Regions from separate parts of the Homo sapiens genome. Here regions 1 and 2 are each linked to region 3. Evidence: fine-mapped expression QTL. A gene starts in region 3. Each other region holds a variant in brackets. All regions are shown on one strand. Distances are from middle to middle. Region 1 has its middle 43 kb from the start of GOLPH3. Region 2 overlaps MTMR12 (myotubularin related protein 12). Region 3 holds the start of MTMR12 (myotubularin related protein 12).

Evidence for each region.
Region 1: its variant is fine-mapped to the expression of MTMR12 in follicular helper T cells (Schmiedel 2018, PIP 0.95).
Region 2: its variant is fine-mapped to the expression of MTMR12 in whole blood (INTERVAL, PIP 0.93).

What each region holds. Positions count from the first base shown.
Region 1 is chr5:32,213,394-32,221,576 of GRCh38, reverse strand. No RefSeq gene overlaps it. Among named protein-coding and RNA genes, the nearest start is that of GOLPH3, 43 kb to the right of the region's middle. The variant T/ATTTT (reference allele first, on the strand shown) is at 4,574.
Region 2 is chr5:32,276,583-32,284,765 of GRCh38, reverse strand. It overlaps MTMR12 (myotubularin related protein 12), which reads left to right. Exons shown (of 16, transcript NM_001040446.3): 2 at 8,024-8,084. Among named protein-coding and RNA genes, the nearest start is that of MTMR12, 32 kb to the left of the region's middle. RefSeq lists enhancers at 3,921-4,030, 4,051-4,100. The variant G/A (reference allele first, on the strand shown) is at 3,986.
Region 3 is chr5:32,308,479-32,316,661 of GRCh38, reverse strand. It overlaps MTMR12 (myotubularin related protein 12), which reads left to right and starts at 3,723. Exons shown (of 16, transcript NM_001040446.3): 1 at 3,723-3,904. The coding sequence starts at 3,824. It also overlaps the pseudogene RNU6-378P. RefSeq lists an enhancer at 3,255-3,304 and silencers at 3,395-4,184, 4,255-4,394, 6,520-6,680.

The DNA.
Region 1 (8,183 bases), 95 kb after region 3:
CTGGTGGCCTTCTGTCCACCATGGCTGCTGCCTAGGAGCTCTTTGCCTGAGGTCTATATGTGTTAGTTTGGATTCCCCCAGAAGCAGGCTCTGGATCAAGGATTTGGGTGCAAGTGGTTTATCTGGGCAGTGTTCCCAGGTACCACTGTGAAATGATGGGGAACGGAGAAAGGGAAAACAAAGAATAACAGATACAGTAAGGAACGAGTGATTACTGTGGGCAACTGGGGCCAGCCCCCTGGGGACTCCCGAGAGACCATGTGGAGCATGTTTGGAATAGTCCCACAGAAGAGTGAGGAAGCTGGGGTACTGACAACAACTCCTCTCCCCACTAGTTGAGGGCGGGTTGCTCCTGGGAATCTGTTGGTGTGTGCAGGGACTGCCAGAGATGTGGGCAAGGGACCGCCTACTGCAGTCCATAGGGTCTGCTGGGAGATGGACAGCCTTCCTGCCACAGCAGTTTGGGGACAGCATCTCTGACAAAGCCGCCAAGCCAGGCACCTGGCTGGCTTGGTCTAGCCTAGCCAAGCACACTGTGTAACAATCCCCCACCCAGGGGCCAGGCCTCTGCAACATGCAGTAATGCCCAAATATTTAGCTGCTCATTCAAGGGGGTGGTACATCAAAATAAGAAAACAGCCAGGCGCGGTGGCTCACAACTGTAATCCCAGCACTTTGGGAGGCTGAGGCAGGCAGATCACCTGAGGACAGGAGTTTGAGACCAACCTGGCCAACATGGTGAAACCCTGTATCCACAAAAAATACAAAAATTAGCCGGGCATGGTGGTGGGTACCTATAATCCTAGCTACTTGGGAGGCTGAGACAGGAGAATCGCTTGAATCTGGGAGGCGGAGGTTGCAGTGAGCTAAGATCGTGCCACTGCACTCCAGCCTGGGCAATGAGCTGTCAAAAAAAAAAAAATTCCGTCTCAAAACAAAAAAAAAAATAGTATCATGGCTAGTTCAGGGCCTTGTATTTTTAAAGCAATTGTGTCAACAGGCTATCATTTTTTCAGTCAAGGCAGAATTTTTAAATGTGGGGCTGATAATTTTCGGTTTCCACAAATTCTAAGTAATAGTCTCCCTCTTCTTCTCTGAGGCAGCTACAGTTTCTTACCTGTTTATTTTGAAAGGGATTACAGTGGCTCATGCCTGTAATCCCAGCACTTTGGGAGGCCAAGGCAGGTGGATCACTTGAGGTTGGCAGTTTGAGACCAACCTGGCCAACATGGCAAAACCCCACCTCTACTAAAAAATACAGGTCGTACACAGTGGCTCACGCCTGTAATCCCAGCACTTTGGGAGGCCTAGGCGGGCGGATCACGAGGTCAGGAGATCGAGACCATCCTGCCTAATACGGTGAAACCCCGTCGCTACTAAAAAATACAAAAAAATTAGCCGGGTGTGGTGGCAGCCGCCTGTAGTCCCAGCTGAGGCTGAGGCAGGAGAATGGTGGCAGAGCTTGCAGTGAGCCGAGATTGCATCACTGCACTCCAGCCTGGGCGACAGAGTGAGACTTGTCTCAAAAAATAAAAAATAAAAAAAAATTAGGGGCCGCGCGCAATGGCTCTCGTCTGTAATCCCAGCACCTTGGGAGGCTGAGGCGGGTGGATAACCTGAAGTCAGGAGTTTGAGATCAGCCTGGCCAACATGGTGAAACCCCGTCTCTACTAAAAATATAAAAAGATTAGCCGGGCGTGGTGGTGGGTGTCTTTAATCCCAGCTACTCCGGAGGCTGAAGCAGGAGAATTGCTTGAACCCAGGAGACGGAGGTTGCAGTGAGCCAATATGGTGCCACTGCACTCCAGCCTGGGTGACAGAGTGAGACTCTGTCTCAAAAAAAAAAAAAAAAAATTAGCCAGGCGTGGTGGTGCGTGCCTTCCTGCAGTCCCAGCTACTCAGTTGCAGTGAGCCAGGATTGCACCACTGCACTCCAGCCTGGGCAACACAGCGAGACTCCACTTCCAAAAAAAAAAAATATATATATATATATATATATTAGATTCCCAACATTTAACCATTTTGAACCAATACGACACTGCCAACATTTGACCACTCTTTACTACAAAAATGACATTTTCATGTGGTTCAAATTAAACATATGAATTTGAGGTGGGACTGGGATATTGTTTACACCACATCTCTTTATCTTGCTTTTCTCAGTCTGCATTGTCTCATGGAAATTGCTCTGAATTGAGGTGGAGTTCTAATACATTTATTTATTTATTTATTTATTTTTATTTTTATTTATTTTTTTGCTCTGGCACCCAGGCTGGATTGCAGTGGTACAATCAGGGCTCACTGCAGCCTCAACTTCCCAGGCTCCAGCGATCCTCCTACCTCAGCCTCCTGAATAGCTGGGACTACAGGCGCGCACCAGCACGCCTGGCTCGTTTTAGTATTTTTGGTAGAGACAGGGTTTCACCATGTTGCCCAGGCTGGTCTTGAACTCCTGAGGTCAAGCAATAGCCCCCTCCTCGGCCTCCCAAAGGGCTGGGATCACAGGCGTGAGCCCCCGCGCCCAGCCTCTAGTGCATTTTTCCATAGCTTCTCAAAGGGCACGTGCAGGGAATTGTGACAGTCTTGTCTCAAGCCCATTCCTCACTAATGCTTTCAGCTCCCTCCTACCTCAACAGAAACTGCCTGATTTCTCCCCAGTCCTGCCTGTGCCTCCCCTTTACGAAGGGGAATAATTTTTAGATTCGCAAAGCCTGGGGGCCATGTCTAAATTGCCCTTCCTATTTCTACCAGGGAATCGAGTTTCATCCTGTCTTGGGGCTTCTGGGTATGGGGCTGATTTTCCAGAACTCTTGAAGATTTGACCCACACCGCCCCTTGCCTCACAGGAAATGGCAAAACTAACTAGATGATTATGTGATTCAATCCTTAATGTGGAGTTTTTATAAAATTAAAAAAAAAAAACCCACACAGTGCCTTGAATATACAGAGCACCTCTCCATTCATCTCAGTTCAAGAAGTCCTGCCAAGCCTTTGAAGTACAGTAACATTCTCAAATGTGCACCCCCCGCCCAAAATCGTTCACACTGCAGAACACTATTCAGGAAAGAAATGTTTCGTGATTTTTTTAAAAAAAATGAGTGAAAAGCCAAGAAATTAAACAGCCTCTGTTTATGGCAGGTGGTAAGAAAAATGTAACGTAACACATACCCTTCCCTGCCTTTTGCATAACCAGTTTGATGCATAGTTCTACTGTGCGAGCAGATTCAAAACTTGCTGGTTTTCTTCGTAATAACATAGCACATGCCAGGGAATAAGGGCTCAGTGTGTTCTAGGCACAAGGAGAACTTATTCTGGACTGACTCAAGCAGAAAGAAGCCAAATTGTCAAGACAAAGAGCAGCTTAGACGCGTGAATTCCAGCGCGACAGCCATGGCTGCTCTGTTCAGAGATGTAGTTCTGTGGTTAGGCCCCAACGGCTCGCCTTTTTGGGTATTCCTCTACTTAAATCAGGTGGTTGAAGGTATTCGTGGCTCTCAGAAAGGACAGGCTGGGGAGAGAGAAGTTGTCCCGCAGCTGCAAGTTTCTTTGAGGCCTCTCTTTCCATTTTGGCTGCTGGCCAAATACTCATTTTAACTAGGGACCTACTGTAGGACACAGAAGTGATTGCCCCGGCGTGGTAGCCCTGCTGTCTACTTTTCACTCAGTAAATACATGCTGAAGAAGCTAATTCAGGAGGTTGAATTTAAACCATTAGGTTCGAGATTTGTTATATTATTATAAAAAATCATCTTTAATATTTGTGGATAGAGCCATCACCAGAGATAAAAAGGGCAGTTTGGGCTGGGCATGGTGGCTCATGCCTGTAATTCCAGCACTTTGAGAGGCCGAGTGGGGAGGATTGACGAAGGCCAGGAGTTCGAGACCAGCCTAGGCAACATAGCGGGACCCCCATCGCTACAAAAACAAAAACAAAATTAGCTGGGTGTGGTGGTGCAGGCCTGTAGTCCCAGCTACTCCGGGAACTGTGAGGTGGGAGGACTGCTTGAGTCCAGGAGATCGAGGCTGCAGTGCACAGAGATCGCACCACTGCACTCCAGCCTGGGGGACAAAGCAAAACCCTGTCTCCCAAAATAAAAACCAATAAAAAATAGATAAAAGGGCAGTTTTATTAATAAAGAGGATAGGAAAGAAACTCCTCCCGAGCCCTGCGGATCTAACCGAGCACTGTCAAGGGAGGCTGTGTCTCCTGCTCCTCTCTCCGCACCAGTCCAGGCTCCATGGCCCCATGGCCCACCATTCTCCCGCAGTCCCACCTGTTCCGGGGGAAGTCTCGGCCTCCTTCTCCCCACACCCAGGCCCTATACCTGTGCCCCCCACCCTCCCAATCCCCCCCTCCATTATCCCTCAGGAACCTTTTGCTTTCTATTATGTTCTGTCTCCCAGTCCTTTGGTCTCTACAGACCCCGCCCGTTCAATGTGCCCTGGTCTAGCCTATCTCAAAACAAAATGAATGCCTGGATCCTACCTTCCTCTTCAAGCTACACTCCCCACCCCTATTCCCTGTCTTTATCAGCCTGACAGACTTATTATTTATTTATTTATTTATTTATTT[T/ATTTT]AAGAATAATCTAGCCAGATGCAGTGCCTCATGCCTGTAATCCCAGCACTTTGGGAGGCTGAGGCTGGTGGATCACTTGAGGTCCGGAGTTCGAGACCAGCCTGGCCAACATGGTGAAACCCTGTCTCCACTAAAAATACAAAATTAGCCAGGTTTAGTGGTGCATGCCTGTAATCTCAGCTACGTGGGAGGCTGAGGCAGGAGAATTGCTTGAACCTAGTGGGTGGAGGTTACAGTGAGCCAAGATTGCGTCACTGCACTCAAGCCTGGGCAATGAGAGTGAAACTCCATCTCAAAAAATAATAATAATAATATTTTTATGTGTTTATTTTTAGAGATGGGGTCTTGCTATGTTGCCCAGGCTGTACTTGAACTCTTGGGCTCAAGGGATCTTCCCAGCCTCCTGAGTAGGTGGGACTACAGACACGCACCATTGCGCCTGGCCAGCCAAACTCCTTAAAGCAGTGGTCCCCAACCTTTCTGGCACCACAGACTGATTTCTCAGAAGACAATATTTCCACAGACCAAGGAGGAGCAGGGGTTGGGTTGGATGGTTTCAGGATGAAACTGTTCCACCTCAGATCATCAGAGAATCATTAGTTAAGATTCTCATAAGGAGCGTGCAACCTAGATCCCTCGCATGCACAGTTGACAATAGGGTTCCCGCTCCTAAGAGAATCTAATGCTGCTGCTGATCCGACAGGAGGCGGAGCTCAGGCAGTAATGCTCCATCACCCTCCCCTCACCTCCTGCTGTGCAGCCCAGTCCCTAATAGGCCACGGGCTGGGGGTGCCTTAAACAGTCACCTTCATTTGGGTTTTCACTGCCCCATGTCACACTCACTTGTCAGTCCACTCCAGGCCACCAAACCCAAAGGACAGTGTTCAGGACAAGTTCTCAGCTTTTCTGTCAATTAGAACTGAGTGTGACAAACCAGGAAGAAGAGAATAGACACGGGAAGGCTCCTGTCAACGTCTGTCAGACCCAGCTTGGCTCCCTCTGTGGCCAGCTCTGTGGGCCACTGCCTTCTTGAACGCCTCTCTTCTCCTGATCTCCATGATCTTGTACTTCCTGGTTTCCTTTCCGTCCCTTTGGCTGCTCCTTCTCGGCCTCCCTGGGAGAATGGTCTTTCTCCTGCCCTCCGTCGGTCTCTGTTCACTCTTTATTTATTTTTTTTTTTTTGAGACAGAGTTTCGCTCTTGTTGCCCAGGCTGTAGTGCAGTGGTGCCATCTCAGGTCACCGCAACCTTTGCCCCCCAGGTTCAAGTGATTCTCTTGCCTCAGCCTCCCAAGTAGCTGGGATTACAGGGATGCGCCACCACACCCAGCTAATTTTGTATTTTTAGTAGAGACAGGGTTTCTCCATGTTGGTCAGGCTGGTCTTGAACTCCCCCCAACCTCAGGTGATCCACCTGCCTCAGCCTCCCAAAGTGCTGGGATTACAGGCGTGAGCCACCCCGCCTGGCTGTGTTCACTCTTAACCCTCTTCCTGGGGGAGGTGGCCTTCATTACCTCGTGTGCACAAATGACCTCTAAATTCTTACCTCCTGCCTATACACAGATGACCAACAAATCTCATCTCCTGCTTCGACCCATATCACAAGACTCAAATGTCTAAAAGCACTGCAAACTCAACACATCCAAAATTAAACTCATTTTATTCTCTCCAAACTGGCTTCTCCTTCAGAACTCTGTGTCTTATAAAATGTGTGTGCCGTTTGCTCAGTTGTCTAAACTAGAGATCTGGGAACTATTCTAGATGTCTTGTTTCCCCTCACTCCCTAGCCCTAATTGACCCCCAAGGTCCACTGAGTCCACCTGCTGCCTGTCTTGAGTCCTTCCACTTCTCTCCATCCCACTGTCACCACCCTGCGCCCTGCCGTCCTGTGCTGTCACCTGGACTCCTCTATCAACTTCTCTGATTGCATCCTTCCTGTTTCTCTCCAATCTGAGCCCCACTTTGCAGCCAGAATCTTTCTAAAATGCCAACCAGATCATGCCACTTACATACAATTCTTTAAGGCCTCTAGTTGCCCTTAGGATAAATGTGACTCCTCAGCCCCTCAGGTCCCAGCCTAATAGGACCCTTCATCACTAGGCCCCTGCCTGCTTCCACATAAGAAAAGCAATGATTAGAAAAAGCTTGAGAAAGGAACCCAAGGATAGAAGCTATGGTGCATTGTTCAGCATCAGTTTTCAGGGAAGTGAAGGGGGTCTCATGGTAAAGCAATGTAATCAGACCTTGGCTTTGACCTTGTACTTTATCTCAACTTTTATATTAACATAATACTAGTTTTATTATAAATATTGTATCTAGTTTATTGCAGCACTATTTATAATAGCAAAGACTTAGAACTAACCCAAATGCCTATCATGATAGACTGGATAAAGAAAATGTGGCACATATACACCATGGAATACTATGCAGCCATGAAAAAGAATGAGATCATCTCCTTTGCAGAGACTTGGATAAAGCTGGAAACCATAATTCTCAAAAAACTAACACAGGAACAGAAAACCAAATACCATGTCATGTTCTCACTCATAAGTGGGAGTTGAACAATGAGAACACATGGACACAGGGAGGGGAACATCATACACTGGGGCCTGTTGGAGGTTGGGGGCAACGGGAGGAAGAGCATTAGGACAAATACCTAATACATGCGGGGCTTAAAACCTAGATGATGGGTTGTTAGGTGCAGCAAACCACCATGGCACATGTGTACCTATGTAACAAACCTGCACATTCTGCACATATATCCCAGAACTTAAAGTAAAATAATAACAATAATAAACAAACAAAAGATTTGGGAACCAAAGAACTAACTGTTGGGACCTTCAAGATGCAGACATTTAATTTTATATGTGTCAATGAAGCATGCATGAAAAAGACAAAGATGAAACAGTGTGTAGTATTAGGAAAAATTGTCAATATGACCCAGGAAAATTCACAAAAAGAAAAGAGAGAAACTGATTATTTGGTTTGTACTGAAGTGGACTAATTATGGGTTATTTATATAAACTGCCAGTCATGTCTAGTTACCCCATGGCAAAACAATGATTATCATTAAACATTAAACCATTAAAAATAAATAAATAAATATTTTATCTATTGAGTACCCCTATTTTATTTATTTGTTTATTTATTCATTTTAAGAGATAGGGTCTTGTCATGTTGGCCAGGGTGGATTCAAAATCCTGGGCTCAAGCAATCCTCCCACCTTGGCCTCCTGAGTAGCTAGGACTATAGGTATAGTCTAGCTATGCACCTGGCCAGCAAAACTTATATTGATGTCGTTTCTCTTGCAGTAAGTATCAAGAGGGGAATTTGAAATACCCATTTTTTGACTAGATATTACATATAATTACTTGAGTATTTTAAAAAGCAGTCCATGAAAGGTGCATAGTACAATGTTGGTCATAGGGAGTGCTTAGTAAACGTTGACTTTTTTTTCTAAAAACTATTTTTATTTCTAGAACTACTTCCTTGTGTTTGGGTAAATGGTAAAGGAGAAAGAAAGAGTGGCTTTTATCAATGATCAGTTTTCAAGGAAATTACATTATGCAAATACTTTATTCTTTATCTCATTTAGTAGAAATCAATATCGCC
Region 2 (8,183 bases), 32 kb after region 3:
ATTGAACATGATAGTTAGTGGAATAAGTGAGGAATGTTACCTCGTGTTTCACAGCTGCAGAAGTAAGGTTGTCAACATCTACTAACTAGGTAGTTGGTAGGGAGTGTCAGAGTTAAAGGCGCAGAGGCTTAAGGGCAACTCTAGACCCTTCTGTAAAACTAGTTTATGGTTTAAGAAGCTCCCACCACCCCAAAGAATAGGGATAGTACACAGGCAGCTCTCACTGGATGCTGATTGAATTGGCTGTTAGATCCTGGGATGTGCTGGGCCTATCTACTGCTCTCTCTGAAAAGGCTTCACAAGTAATAGTCTTTCCATTAAGCTTTAGAGGAATCCTCCGTTTTTCAGTATATTGCAATATGAGTAGAGCATTTGGTGATGCCATCCATATTAGTGGCTAAGCCTAGCTATTGTTTCTTTTCTATTCTTTTTTTTTTTTTTTTTTTTTGAGACAGGGTCTTGTTCTGTCACCCAGGCTGGAGTACAGTGGTGCAATCATAGCTCACTGCAGCCTTGACCTCCCAGGCTGAGGTGATTCTCCCGCCCCAGCCTTCTGAGTAACTGGGACTACAGGCACATGCCACCATGCCTGGCTAATTAAAAAAAAAAAAAATTTTTTTTTGTGGAAATGGGGTTTGGCCATGTTGCCCAGGCTAGTCTCGAATTCTTAAGCTCAAGTGATCCGGTCCATCCACCTTGGCCTCCAACAGTGCTGTGATTACAGGCATAAGCCACCGCGCCTGGCCAAGATTATATACTCTTGAAAGGAAGCAAGAATTGCTCAGGCATACATACCAGTGTTATTCATGGTTAGAGCCTTTCCTGGAGTCCCATTGAACTCTTGAGTCAGTTGGCTTGAAAATTAGAGACTCATGCCTCAGAGGACCCAGTGGAGTGAGTCATAAGAGGTAACACTTTCAGTAGGTGTTGAGGAGCCTCAAGGTTCTTCTCCATGCAGCTGGCCAGTGTCACTTAGGTTGGGTGTAGGTGTCTTTTGTTGTTGTTTTCCCTTTAGCTTCCCTTGGCCTCTCTATAACTCTCATTCGAGGCTTTCCCTGGTCACTTTGTGTTGCTCGCTTTTACCTGGTTTCAGGTGGATCTAGCAGGTACTTCACTGATCATTCTGCCTTGTTTTTCCTTTTTCCTTTCATTCCTTCTTTCCACATGACAGTGTGGCATTGAATAAGAATGCAGACTGGGCCAGGAACGCAGACTGCGCACAGGGTTTGACTTTCACCTGTGCCACATACTAGCAGGGTGTCTTCATCTGTAAAATGGAGACAATCATGGGTATAATAACTCTATTGCAAAGGTTTGCTGTGAGGATTAAATGAGTTAATAAATAAATACAAAGCTTTTTAGACAGTAGCTGGCACTTAGAGCCCAAGAAATGTTTGTTATTATTCACTTCTCAACCTCAGTAAGGGCTGGCCCTGTACCCACTTTGGAAAAAGGAACAGTAGACTTTGGCGTTCACAGATTGGACATCTGTGATGTCTACAGTCCACAAGTGACTCTTGGTCACAGTGTAGTAATTTGTAATGCCACTAAGAAAGAGATTATATTTACTCATTCAATTGTAAAGTTTGGACAGCCTTTAATCACTCACCCAACAAATTTGCCAATGAAAACAACAGCTTATACACATTCAGAATACAGCATGGTTAGGAGTAGGATGCACATAGGGGAATTTCAGGGGAACCCACTCCAAGATCCACATGTAGGACTCAGCACATCCAGATACGGGTGCTCTCGTACCTTGTTGGTATCCACCTCTGCTCTCCTTCATTCAGCTATGTTCATTCTCCTGTGATCAACAAGCAAAGAATGGTAAATCCGTTTTCTCTTAAGAATATTGAAATATATTAGCTCCATATTTGTCAGTTCTTTCTTTGTTTTTCTTGTGGAGTTCAAAAAGCGATTGTGAAATATAGGGATGAAGAGACTACAGACATTGCCAGTGAATACTCTCCGTTCCGTCCTTCCTACCCACCCAAACAGGTAACTTGTGAAAATCAAATTCAAAGAAAAACTCCAATTAAACTTATTTTTGAGGCAAGGATTTCTTTATGATTCTTATTTGTATACCCTGATTTTTTGGAGTCCTCTAGGTTATTTCTCTTCTTGGGACTGGTTTGGATTTTTGTTTGAGGGGGGAAGCAGTTGATAGTGGTGATGATGGTTATTTGTTTTTTACCTGAGTTGATTATCTGTAAGACTTGCATAGTGTATATTTATAATTTTTTTGAAGTGTTAACCAGAAAGGATTAGATACTCATGATGATTTTTATTTTTTATTTTATTTATTTATTTATTTATTTATTTATTTATTTATTTATTTATTTTAGATGGAGTCTTGCTCTGTCGCCCAGGCTGGAGTGCAGTGGCACAATCTCGGCTCACTGTAAGCCCCGCCTCCCGGGCTCACGCCATTCTCCTGCCTCAGCCTCCAGAGTAGCTGGACTACAGGCACCCGCCACCACACCTGGCTAATTTTTGGTATTGTTAGTAGAGACGGGGTTTCACCAGCTAATTTTTTGTATTTTTAGTAGAGACGGGGTTTCACCATGTTAGCCAGGATGATCTCGATCTCCTGACCTCGTGATCCGTCCGCCTCGCCCTCCCAAAGTGCCAGGATTACAGGCATGAGCCACCGCACCCAGCCTGATGCTCGTGATGATTGAGTACAGTGTGGCACCTTAAATTCCAGTGCTCCAGTGGTTATATAGGTTTCTATTCTCAATTTGTTACCACCTTTTAGCAACTTGATCTACTGTCAACAAAATTAGTAGCTGAGAAAGCTTTTTTGTGTGTGCATGCCCAAGCAGGTCCTTCCTCTCGGATGTGGTCTCTTTTTTTTTTTTTTGAGACGGAGTCTCGCACTGTCTCCCAGGCTGGAGTGCAATGGTATGATCTCAGCTCACTGCAGCCTCCACCTCCCAGGTTCAAGTGACTCTCCTGCCTCAGCCTCCTGAGTAGCTGGGATTATAGGCATGCATCACCATGCCTGGCTAATTTTTATATTTTCAGTAGAGACGGGGTTTCAGCACGTTGGTCAGGCTGGTCTCGAACTCCTGACTTTGTGATCCACCCGCCCCAGCCTCCCAGAGTGCTGGGATTACAGGCATGAGCCACCACGCCCGGCCCAGATGTGGTTTCTTAAGAAAGCCATTGGTCTACTTTTTTGGTCTTGCAGAGGGTTCAAAGTGCTTTCTATTGCAAAAGATAAGATGCATAATGACCAGACATAAATCATGGTGTGCTGCTAGAAGATAAATCCTATTAATAGAAAAATGCTATTTCCTTTACCCTGGCTTCAGATATTCCTAATGTAGTTAAAGTCTTACAGATTTAGGGCCAACTTCAGTGTTGCTAATTTCAGGAATTCCTGATCCACAGAAAAAAGAATTGTGAGCCTGAGTAGAGTCAATTTAGTTTAATATGGGAAACAAGATTGGGAGAAAAGTAGAAGTTACTAGTCTCATGTAACAGTTTTTTTTGTTTTTTTTTTTTTTTTAATGATAGAGTCTCCTTCTGTTGCCCAGGCTGGAGTGCAGTGGCACGATCTCAGCTCACTGCAACCTCCACCTCCCGGGTTCAAGCTATTTTCGTGCCTCAGCCTCCCGAGTAGCTGGGATTACAGGCACATGCTGCCGCATCCTGCCAATTTTTGTATTTTCAGTAGAGACGTGGTTTTACCATGTTGGCCAGGCTGTTCTCAAACTCCTGGCCTCAAGTGATCCACCCACCTCAGCCTCCCAAAGTGCTGTGATTACTGGTGTGAGCCACCACACCCTGCCGAGAGATTCTTGAATAATTCCCCTACTCTTTGTTTACTCATGAAAGGAAATCAAGCAGAAGCACAGATCCTGCTACCCCCAACAACTATAACAAATTACATGACCAAGTACCTGTGTCACCGAAGTTATGTATGTATCTCTTAAAGCTCTCATACTAGGTAGTATTGTTTCCATTTTAGTATATC[G/A]GAGGAAACTGAAACTGACACTCAGTCAGTTTAAATGACAAGACCAAAGTCACATCTGTGGATGCCAGAGCCATATTTGGACTGTGGCCCCAGGTCGGTATTCTTTCTGTTTTTAGTACATGCACAGAGAAAATATTGGAGAAACATAGAGAAAGACAAAAACTTAAATTATTAGTACTATGCTGTATAAAAAATACAACTTTCTACTTAAAAAAATTTTGTTTTAAGATATACATGGATACCTACCTAATATGTAGATGCAAATTCATTTTTCTCCCTCAGATTTTCTACTTAGCTGGAAAAAAATGAGTATTAAGTGTTCATTCTAGAAAAGTAGGGCAGCTTTTAGGAAATGAAATGTCTGTGTTATGTCCTTTTAGCACTGTGTCAAATGCAATGGAAAGAAATTGTTTTGGAACCTTTAGAGATGTTGCTTCTTAGAGTTTGTCCCTCTGGCTGGATAAAATTAATCTGAGAACAACAATTTCAGTTTTTGATTTAAAGCTGATAGGAGCATTTATAAGCATTTTGACCTATGAGAGCTTCATTGTACCCCCACACACCCTAGTTCTTTTCAAGATCTTTCTGGCAGGGCCCTACCCTTTTTCTACCTCTCCTAAGGTGCCCCAGGATCATCACACATTTGAGATGATGTGCACTCTGAATGTGAACTTGGTAAGAGTCCAAAGAATTGACTTTTCAAGAACCAGTGAAGTAAATACCACCAGGCTGCCTCTCAGCAAGTCCTCAAGAGTGGTAGTTGACTTTAACATCCATGTGCTTTTGTCCTGTATGTCCCCAGCCCCTAGACTGCGGACTGGTACTAGTCTGTGCCAGCACTGCAGGAGTTGAATGTAGGAGTAGGGGGCAGCAAGGATTACCTCCTGAGTTCCACCTCCTGTGGGATCAGTGGCGGCATTAGATTCTTATAGGAGCATGAACCCTATTGTGAACTGCACATGCAAGAGATCCAGGTTGCACGCTCCCTATGAGAATCTAAGTAATGTCTAATGACCTGAGGTAGAACAGTTTCATCCCAAAATCATCCCCTGCCCCCCTGCCAGGTCCGTGGAAAAATTGTCTTCCGTGAAACCAACACCTAGCTCCAAAAGTTTGGGGAATGCTGCTGTGTGTGGCAGATCCTTGAATGTGAAGTAGTTCTCCTAACGGAATTTTTCTTATTTGTTCTGATCAGTTTTGTGGTAAGAGTTTCCTTTACAAGCAATGGATGCTACATTGATTTTCTCTTTTGCAATGGGAAACTGGAGACCATGTTTGTTAGAATTGGTACATAGCAGCGAAGAATGTAGGCTCTGAGTTCAATGGAGCTTGCAGATCCTTGGTTAGTAACTTTTTTTTTTGAGACACGGTTTTGCTCTGTTTCTCAGGCTGGAATGCAGTGGTGCAGTCATGGCTCACTGCAGCCTTGACCTCCTGGCCTCAAGTGATCTTTTCACCTCAGCCTCCCAGGTACCTGGGACTTCAGGTGTGTACTACCATACCTGGATGATTTTTTAATTTTTTTGTTTGTTTGTTTTGTAGAGATGAGTCTCACTCTGTTTCCTAAGCCCGTCTCAAATTCCTGGGCTCAAGCAGTCCTCCCACCTCGGCCTCCCAAAGTGTTGGGATTGTAGGTGTGAGTTGCTGTGCCCAGCCATAACTTACTTTTTTTTTTTTTTTTTTTTTTTTTTTTTTTTTTTTTTTGAGACAGAGTTTCGCTCTTGTTGCCCAGGCCGGAGTGCAAAGGCACAATCTCGGCTCACTGCAACCTCTGCCTCTCGGGTTCAAGTGATTCTCCTGCCTCAGCCTCCCGAGTAGCTGGGATTACAGGCATGCACCAACACCCCGGCTAATTTTGTATTTTTAGTAGAGACGGGGTTTCTCCATGTTGGTCAGGCTGGTCTGGAACTCCTGACCTCAGGTGATCCGTCCACCTCGGCCTCCCAAAGTGCTGGGATTACAGGCGTGAGCCACCACACCTGGCCAAGAATTTTTAAATTACCAAAACAGTCGTAGCTTTTAACATGCAGGAATAGTTCCTCTTGCTTAAGCCCCAGACCAGTACATCAGAATCATCTGGGGAGCTTTTTACAAAATCAGAGAGCCAGCCTGCATCCCTGCACTATAAGTCCGCAGGCTTATGGGTGCCAGAGAGTGTTTAGATAACAAGCTTCCCACGTGATCTGACCACACTGCCTCAGAGGGACTTGGTTTACTGGCATCTTAGTCACCTCCAATTTATACCATGCTCAAAAATGAGTTCTCAGGAAAAGCCCTAACATTCTTCTTCAGCCTCAAGATAGGCTGTACCCAAGTTTCTTCTAATGCCATATTTCAGTCTGAATTAACAAATTCAGAAAATTTCCCACCCAGGGCCTTCTACCAAAGAAAAAAAAAAATCTGATTTTATTTGTTGACAAAACTGGTTGTGTCTTGTAGAATTTTTCACAGTCAGAATTTGACTGATTATATCCCCACTGTATTATTTGACATGTTTCTCTGTCCCAGTGTTTCTGATACATTGGCTGATTGCTGTGGAAGTTCAAGGAGACTGAGGTTAGATATTTTGGCAAGAACACTTCCTGGATGGTGTGGCACACTTTATTAGGAGGCCCATGGTGCCTCTCTTTGTTATGTTAACAGCCATATATGATCATTGCTTTGGTCTATTCATTCATTCATGTTTGTAATTAATTATCTTTGAATATCCCATAAATACTGAGCCCCAAGTAGAGGCATTTGAATATATTTTTACTGAGAAGCAGTGACCCAGAAACTGGCCTTGATTCTCTGTTAGAAATGACTGTATCCCTTGGCACTGTCTTGTGGTTTTAGGTAACTTTGAATGGACAAAGAATGTCCCAGCTCTCTTTACTGAGCCCTGGTGTGCTGTAGATTAGCTGGATCAATACTGACTTGATACATTCATGTTTTCCTATTCTTACCTTTGGGCCTTATTTATGTGTCCATATTCTTTCAAGAACACATCATCTTTTGCTTTCAACCCTTGATCCTCACTGGAAGGAGAGGGGATCATGCTGTGGCGTGTTGTCTCTTTTCTTTCTTTCTTTTTCTTTTTTTTTTGAGACAGAGTCCCACTGTTACCCAGGCTGGAGTGCAGTGGCATAATCTCGGCTCACTGCAGCCTCTGCCTCCCGAATTAAAGTGTTTCTCCTGCCCTAGCCTCCCAAGTAGCTGGGATTACAGGCACTCACTACCATGCCTGGCTAATTTTTGTATTTTTAGTAGAGACGGGGTTTTGCCATGTTGGCCAGGCTGGTTTCGAACTCCTGACCTCAAGTTATCTGCCCATCTCGGCCACCCAAAGTGCTGGAATTACAGGTGTGAGCCACCACGCTGGGCCATCTCTTTTATTTCAGATTCTGTGTTTGAGCAGCCTTGCTTTGCTATGTGACACTTCAAGTTGTTCCTTAGATAAGGAGAGATAAGGAGTGCCCACCTCACCCCCTCTACTTGGGACAGCTACTAGTTATCAGTCCTAAATAATTAGTTTAATACATTAAATATCCATAACTTGGAGTTTTCTGTCTTCCTTTAGTTAGAACACTTCCTGTTTTTAAAAAGTATCTAGCTTGGGCCAGGCATGGTGGCTCACGCCTGTAATCCCAGCACTTTGGGAGGCTGACGCGGGCAGATCACAAGGTCAAGAGATCAAGACTATCCTGACCAACAAGGTGAAACCCCATCTCTACTAAAAATACAAACAATTAGCTGGGCGTGGTGGCACACGCCTGTAGTCCCAGCTACTTGGGAGGCTGAGACAGGAGAATCACTTGAACCTGGGAGGCAGAGGTTGCAGTGAGCTGAGATCGTGCCACTGCACTCCAGCCTGGCAACAGAGTGAGACTCCATCTCAAAAAAAAAAAAAAAAAAAAAAAAAAAAAAAGTAGCTTGTAACATAAACGAAAAGCTCCTGAGGGTATGTGATATTTTAGTGTGTATTCTGAAAGCATGGCTTAATGTTATTCATTTTAAACCCTTAAACAAAGAAAAATATCCTTTGCTCTTCTCTTTTAGGAAATTCACACAAACGAAAAGGAAGTAACAGAGAAGGAAGTAACTCTTCACTTGTTGCCAGGTAACTGTCATGTTAGCATAGTAACTCCTATGCAAGGCAAAGCCAATGATAAATTACATCATCCCTAGCCTTGCTATATTTAAACTCCTTTGTTTTCAT
Region 3 (8,183 bases):
GTCCCTCGCCCCCCGTTCTTTTTTTTTTTTTTTTTTTTTTTTTTGAGACAGGGTCTTGCTCTGTCACCCAGGCTGGAGTGAGTGGCATAATCATGGGTCACTGCTGCCTCCAGGGCTCAAGTGATCCTCCCACCTCAGCCATCCAAGTAGCTGAGATTGGGACTACAGGTGCACACCACCATGCCAGGCTAATTCTTTGTATTTTTTGTAGAGACTGAGTCTCCCTATGTTGCCCGGTCTGGCTTCAAACTCCTGGACTCAAGTGATCTGCCTGCTTTGACCTCCCAAAGTGCTGAGATTACAGGTGTAATCCCACTGCACCCGGCCTCCAAGCCTTCTTAAGTATGAGATTCTGTGTGACTGCACTAGTTTCATGTCCAAAGAAGCCAGCCTTGGACATAGTCACATTTACTAACAACTATGGTGAAAGGTCATGGAAATTCAAAATACTTTGAAAAGTAAGAAAGGAAACATTTTCTCAGTGTCTAAAAATCTGCCCTGCCATTCTACTTCGAAAAGTGAAGACTGCTGCAAAATATAATGATATTAGTCTTGACAAAGAAAAGTATTCTTTAACACTCCCATGAAGAATATCTTTTTTTATGAAGCCTTACTTTGTAACTATAATAGGTTTGTTGCCCAATGCACTGGACAAGTCAATACACCAAGGCACCAGGTTACAGCAGTGAAAGAGGTTTAATTGTAGGGCTGCTGGATGAGGAGACAGGAGGAAACCTCAAATTCATCTCCCTGAGGAGTCAAGGAGTTTGGGGCTAGGGTTTTTTTGCGGGGGGATGGTTTTTGAGACAGGATTTTGCTTTGTCACCTAGGCTGGAGTGCAGTGACCTATCAGTTCACTGTAACCTCAAACTCCTGGGCTCAAACAATCTTTCCACCTCAACCTCCTGAGTACCTTGTACTACAGGCTTGCACCACCATGCCTGACTAATTTTTTAATGTTTCATAGAGACAGGGCCTCACTATATTGTCTGGGCTGGTCTTGAACTCCTGAACTCAAGTGAGCCTCCTACTTTGGCCTTTAAAAGTGCTGGGATTACAGGTGTGAGCTACTGCACCCTGCCTGGGGCTAGGGTATTTAAGGGTTTTGAAGTGGACCAAAGTGTGGAGATCATCAATTGGTTGAAAAGTGCAGGGTAAAGTCATGAGACAGAGAGATGAAGAAATTGTATTCTCGCACTGATTCGGTTCCTGTGTGTGTGTGGGTGTGTGTGTGTGTGTGTGTGTGTGTGTGTTGGGGCGGGGGCGGTCTTTAAACTGGTTGATGTCGGCTGTTCTGCTGGAACGTAGGATCTGCCTAAGCAATTCTTAAATAAAACCCTTATGATTCCAGAGCCAGAAATCCTACCTATTGAAACAACAGGGATGCAAATGGTCAGTACCTAGTGTTACCTGAAGTTATTAATACAAAGAAGCAGGCCGAACTGCAGCCTGATTAATGCTTAGTTATAACTCTATTTTTGTGCAGAATTCTTCTCAACCTTGTAAGGATGGCCTCAACTTGGACTCCCCAAATAGAATTGACCACACTTTCATTGTGCTCCTTTCTAATTTGTATAATTATAATGTTAAGAACTTGGGATTTCGAATGAGACAAACCCGGGTTGAAATCCCAGCTCTCTCAGTGACTAGTTGTGAGACCTGGGCAAATTACTTGCATCTCTGTTTTGTCACCTGGAAACTGGGATAAGGAAACTCAGAGGCGGCTGCAGCACAGCTATACCAAATATTGGCTTACAGGTGGCAATCTAGCTGGAAACGGAGCTGCAGGACTTGCGTTGAAACTATGTTTGCAAAAGCAAGCACATTTGTTTTCACTAAGATTTTATATTTACTTGGAGTGTATTTGGGAAGGGGGAGCACATGGAGATTAAGAGGGTAAAAATCAAGGTCACCAATGAGAGTACTTAGCACAGTGCCTGACGCCTAAAAAATTAACTGCAAATATTTATGTTTTTTTCCACTAGATTGAATTTCTTAAGAGCTGGATTCTATCTTATTTATCTGCAACTAACAACGCTTGGCACCAAATGTAGAACTGAAATGAATTTTCTTTGCAATCTTGACTAAAAAATGAGGGTTTTATCAATAACTTCGTAGAGTAAATAGAAGTCTCTTAAGGGCTCTTGATATTCTTCCTGTTGGAAACACAAAGAAGGGAAAGGTTTGGAAAAATGAAGTTGACAAAGTCTTTTATTATCAAACGCTCAAACTTATTCCTCACTGCCTTGTTAACACTTGATTTGACACTTTTTTTTTTCTGTTTGAGACACAGTCTTGCTCTGCCACCCAGGCTGGAGTGCAGTGGCGCGATCCTGGCTCACTGCAACCTTGGTTCAAGCGATTCTCGTGCCTCAGCCTCCCGAGTAGCTGGGATTACAGGCGCCCGCCACCACACCAGGCTAATTTTTGTATTTTTAGTAGAGATAGGGTTTCTCCATGTTGGCCAGGCTGGTCTCAAACTCCTGACTTCAGATGATCCACCCGCCTCGGCCTCCCAAAGTGCTGGGATTAGAGGCGTGAGTCATCGTTTGTCTCATTTTTGTTTACATTTAAAATAATAAACCTTGAGGTCGGGCGCGGTGGCTCACGCCTGTAATCCCAGCACTTCGGGAGGCCGAAGCGGGTGGATCATCTGAAGTCAGGAGTTTGAGACCAGCCTGGCCAACATGGTGAAACCCCCGTCTCCATTAAAAATACAAAAATTAGCGGCATGGCGCGGTGGCTCATGCCTCTAATCCCAACACTTTGGGAGGCTGAGGCGGGCGGATCACGAGGTTAGGGGTTTGAGACTAGCCTGGCCAACATGGTGAAACCCCGTCTCTACTAAAAATACAAAAATTAGCCGGGTGTGATGGCAGGCGCCTATAATCCCAGCTACTCGGGAGGCTGAGGCAGGAGAATCGCTTGAACCTGGGAGGCAGAGGTTGCAGTGAGCCTATACTACGCCATTGCACTCAAGCCTGGGCGACAGAACGACACACACACACACACACACACACACACACAAAATTAGCTGGATATAGTGGCGGGCGCCTGTAATCCCAGCTACTCAGGAGGCTGAGGCAAGAGAATCGCTTGAACCTGGGAGACGGAGGTTGCAATGAGCAGAGATCGCGCCATTGCACTCCAGCCTGGGCGACAAGAGCAAAACTCCGTCTCAAAAGTAAATAATAATAAAATAAAAAACCTTGAACGTCATCGCTGTAAGTTGGGAACTCCTATAGCAAGATTCCATACATCCCATTTTTGGACGTTTTATTCCAAAGACACAAGCAAACGGAAGAAAACGACTGCCGTGAACCCCTGCTAACGACAACTTGGTGACTGCAGGATCATTGGACGACGGTTTTATCCTCGCCATCCAATCGTTGGAAAGTCCGGAGAGAACGCTCTCTGGATTGGTTGGAGGAAACATCTCTCCAAGTGCACTCAAGAATGGGTTGGGAGCGGGGTTCGGCCGGCAGCGCCTCGGGCCAATCAGAGAAAGCATGAGGGCGGGCTCTGCCGCAGGAAGGTGGTGAATCTCGGCGGGTCAAACTCTCCTGACGTGATGGGGGGGCGTGGCCTCCAGTTGCGGTCTCCCGGCTCTCTGGGCCCGCGCACGGGATGGGCGGGGCCCACGGGCCTGGGCGGGGCGAGCGGTGTCAGCGGCGGAGCCGGATGCGGGCGGCATCGCGGCGGTCGCGGCCTTGGGGATGGGCGGAGCCCCAGCCGCTAGTGCTGGTGGCCGCCGCTGCTGCCCCAGCTGGAGCCCGAGCCGCCGCCTCTGCGTCCGCGCGTCGCTGCTTCCCAGGGCGGCGGTATGCTGGGGAAAGGAGTAGTCGGCGGTGGCGGCGGCACCAAGGCCCCCAAGCCCTCCTTCGTGTCGTACGTACGCCCTGAGGTGAGGGGGCGCCGCGCAGGCGGGGCGTCGGGCAGGGGCGGCCGGGGCGAGGGGCGCCGGGAGCCCCTTCCTTGCAGCGGGGAGCGCCGCGGAGCGCTTCCTGCCCTTGTGCCGGGCGACGGGGCAGCCAGGCGGGCTGAGGCCGCAGGAGCGCGCTGGGGCCTCCGCGCGGGCCGGAATGGGGACCCCGGCGCAGGCAGGCAGGTGCCTGAGCGCAGGGCCCGAGCGCTGGAGGCTGGTGGAGGGGCCCGAGCCGAGAAGGGATTGCGGCCCGGAACGCCCCTGGGGATTCTGGAGAGGACCTGGGGTTGTGGGCACTGCTGGGAGGGGTAGGGCCGTGGGTCGGAGCCCCCAACGGGGCCTGCTCGGAGCCCGCGTGGGTCCGTCCTGCCTCTGGACTTTCTCAGTGAGCCCAGAAGCCCGCCGGCCTCCGCTGCCTGCGTCTGAGTGCCTCGGGTGCGGCTGGCGGGATGCCCTGCACCTACGTCCGCCTCCCGTCAGCGCTGCGGGGAGAAAAGGGGGTCGGCCTGGCCTCAGCCAGTCTCTGCTTGTCTCTCCCTTGGGAATTCTCCGCTGTCGCTTCTTTCTCCTCATCCCCTCACCATCATCCTTTCCACCCACTTCTTACTCTTCTGAATCTTCAGGTCAAGAAATTTGTTCATTCATTCAGAAAATACTTCTCGAGCTCCTACTGTGTGTCAGGCACTAAGTGCTTGTGATAGACATCAGTGAACAGGACAGAGATCTCTGCATTCCTGGAGCTTATTTGAGGGGGAAAGGAGAAACGGGGTGAATTATAGATAATTAAGTAAATTATACGGTGTAGTAGGAGGTGATAAATATCATGGGAAAGAAAAGAAATCTTTTTCCTCCTCGCAAAGGTGGCATTTGAGCCGAGACTTGAAGATACGAGAGGTCTGAGAGAAGAGTCGTCCAGGTAGAGGGAACAGCCCCCGGGAAGGTCGTGAGGTGGGAGTGTGTCTGAAGGGTTGGCGGAGCGTCAAGGAAGCCAGCATGGCAGAGGCCCATGGACAAGGGGGACAGTCATAGGAGAGGAGGTTAGAGAGATCAGAACTTGTAGGCCTTGCTCAGGGCTTCTTGAGCAATAGTTCTTAATCCAAATGCCTAATGAGAAGCCTTCTTGTTTTGCATCTGTAAAGGTTTTTTTCTGCCCTTCTCTCCAGCAGAAGTGCAGAAGCACCGCCAAATTTGTTGCAGATGTCTTCCCACCTCTGTAATGCAGAAGCACGTGGGCTGTGGATGAGAGATCTGATCAGGGACTGCTTCCGTAAAGACCACCTGGGGCCTGAGGCATTTGCATATGTATCTTTAAATTCAAGATATGTGTGTTTTCTCCAGGGGAAAGTGCTCTTAAAATGGGTCTTATTTTTAGTCCTAGTTGTAAAATACAAACCATTTCCTCTGTTAGCACTTGATGTGGAGTCAGGGTCATCTTAAAGTTTCAGCGGGCTTCCCTTGTGGTATCACATTTAAGCAATGTGGTCAATTTCTCTTTGTGTCTTTTTAAAACATTTAAACATTTAAAAAATTTTTGTGGGTATAGTAGGTGTATATATTTAATGGGATACATGAAATATTTGGGCTGGGCATGGTGGCTGACACCTGTAATCCCAGCACTTTGGGCCGGCTGAGGTGGGTGGATCACCTGAGGTCAGAAGTTGGAGACCAGCCTGGCCAACATGGTGAAACCCTAAAATTAGCCAGGCATGGTGGTGCGCACCTGTAATCCCAGCTACTTGGGAGGCTGAGGCAGGAGAATCGCTTGAACCCAGGAGGCAGAGGTTGCAGTGAGCCGAGATCGCGCCACTGCACTACAGCTTGGGCGACAGAGCGAGACTCCATCTCAAAAAAAAAAAAAAGAAAGAAATCTTTGGATACAGGCATACAATGCATGAATGGGGTATCCATCACTGCAAGCATTTATCCTTCCTTTGTGTTACACACTATCCAATTATACTCTTTAAGTTATTATAAAATATACAATTATTGTTGACTGTAGTCACCCTGTTGTGCTATCACTTACTAGATCTTATTCTAACTGTGTTTTTGTACCCATTAAACATCCCCACTTCCCTTTCCCCTGCTACCCTTCCCAGCTTTTGGTAACCATCATTCTGTCTCCATGAGTTCAAATGTTTTAATTTTTAGCTCCCACAAATAAGTGAGGACGTGCAAAGTTTGTCTTTCTGCGCCTGGCGTAGTTCACTTAACATAATGACCTCCAGTTCTGTTCATTGTTACAAATGACAGGATCTTATTCTTTTTTATGGCTGAATAGTACTCGTGTGTATGTACCACATTTTCTTTATCTATTCATTTGTTGATGATGGACACTTTGGTTGCTTCCAAATCTTGGCTGTGGTGAATAGTGTTGTAATAAACATGGGAGTGCAGATTTCTCTTCCATGTACTGATTTCCTTTCTTCCTTTTTTAGAGACAGGATCTTGCTTTGTCGCTTAGGTTGAAGTACAGTGGCGTGATCACAGCTCACTGTAGCCTCCACCTCCTGTACTCAAGCCATTTTCCCAAGTAGCTGGGACTACAGGTGCATGCCAGAGCACCTGGCTAATTTTAAAATTTTTAGTAGAGGTGATGTCTTGCTGTCTTTGCCCAGGCTGCTCTCAAACTCCTGGGCTCAAGCAATCCTCCTGCCTCAGCCTCCCAAAGTGCTGGGATTGTAGGCGTAAGCCACCGTGCCTGGCCCTGATTTCCTTTCTTTTGGGTGTATACCTAGCAGTGGGCTTGCCGGATCATATGGTGGCTCTATTTTTAGTTTTTGAGGAACCTCCGTACTGTTCTCCACAGTGGTTGTATTGATTTACGTTCCCACCAACAGCGTATGAAGGTTCCCTTCTCTCCACATCCTTACTAGCATTTGTTATTGCTTATCTTTTTTGGATATAAGCCATTTTAACTGGGATGAGATGATATCTCATACTTTTTTTTTTTAACATTTAAGGGTTTGTTAAAAATATGAAACGCTTCACGAATTTGCATGTCATCCTTGCGCAGGGGCCATGCTAATCTTCTCTGTGTCCTTCCAATTTTAGTATATGTGATGCTGAAGCGAGCACTCATTGTAGTTTTGATTTGTATTTCTCTGGTGATCAATGATGTTAAGCACGTTTTCATGTACCTTTTTTTGCCATTTGTATATCTTCTTTTGAGAAATGTCTTTCAGATCTTGTCTCCATTTTTAGGTGGATTATTAGATTTTTTCCTATTGAGTTGTTTGAGCTTCTTACATATTCTTGTTATCCCCTGTCAGATAGATGGTTTGTAAATATTTTCTCTCATTCAGTGGGTTATCTCTTCATTTTGTTGATAGTTTCCTTTGCTGTGAGGAAGCTTTTTAACTTGATGTGATCCCATTTGTCCATTTTTGCTTTGGTTGCCTATGCTTGTCGGGTATTCTTTATGTCTTTTTTTGATAGAACCCTGGTTGAAGTGCAACTGATCTTTAAACTTTTCTCTTCAGGGAAATTAAACTACAAGTGGAAAGTCTTCTGAAATGTGGCCAGAGTTCAAGAATGTTCAAATTCTTCGTCCACCAAGTGCACATGTTGTAATTAGACATGTTTCCCTCTTTGCCCACAGTGCCTGATGTATTTCCTTTGAGGGATAATTAGGGAAGGGGAGTGGTTCAGTCTAAAATAAGCCTGAAGTGGTCACATTTTTCAGATCCTTATAGTTGGCAGCTTTGTTTTCTTGCATTAAAATAATGCTGTGCAGACACTATGCCTCGTTGTTGTAGTCTGACTCTAAACATGTTTTGTAACAGAGGATAAGGCTCTGTCCTAAATTGTGGATGGTTTTTTAAAAGATAAGGGTAAGGCCGGGCGTGGTGGCTCACGCCTGTAATCCCAGCACTTTGGGAGGCCGAGGTGGGTGGATCATGAGGCCAAGAGATCCAGACTATCCTGGCCAACATGGTGAAACCCCGTCTCTACTAAAAATACAAAAATTACCTGGGCGTGGTGGTGTGTGCCTGTAGTTAGTCCCAGTTACTCGGGAGGCTCAGGCAGGAGAATCCCTTGAACCCAGGAGGCAGAGGTTGCAGTGAGCCAAGATCACGCCACTGCATTTCAGCCTGGCGACAGAGTGAGACTCCATCTCAAAAAAAAAAAGAAGATAAAGGTAGGAAGGGGTGAGAAGGCAATGTATTTTTAAGTATATAGGTTTTGCCAGGTAATCATATTACGGGAAATGCAGGTGAGCAACATCGAGGCATGGCTTATGTGCTTCTGAGAGCCCTGG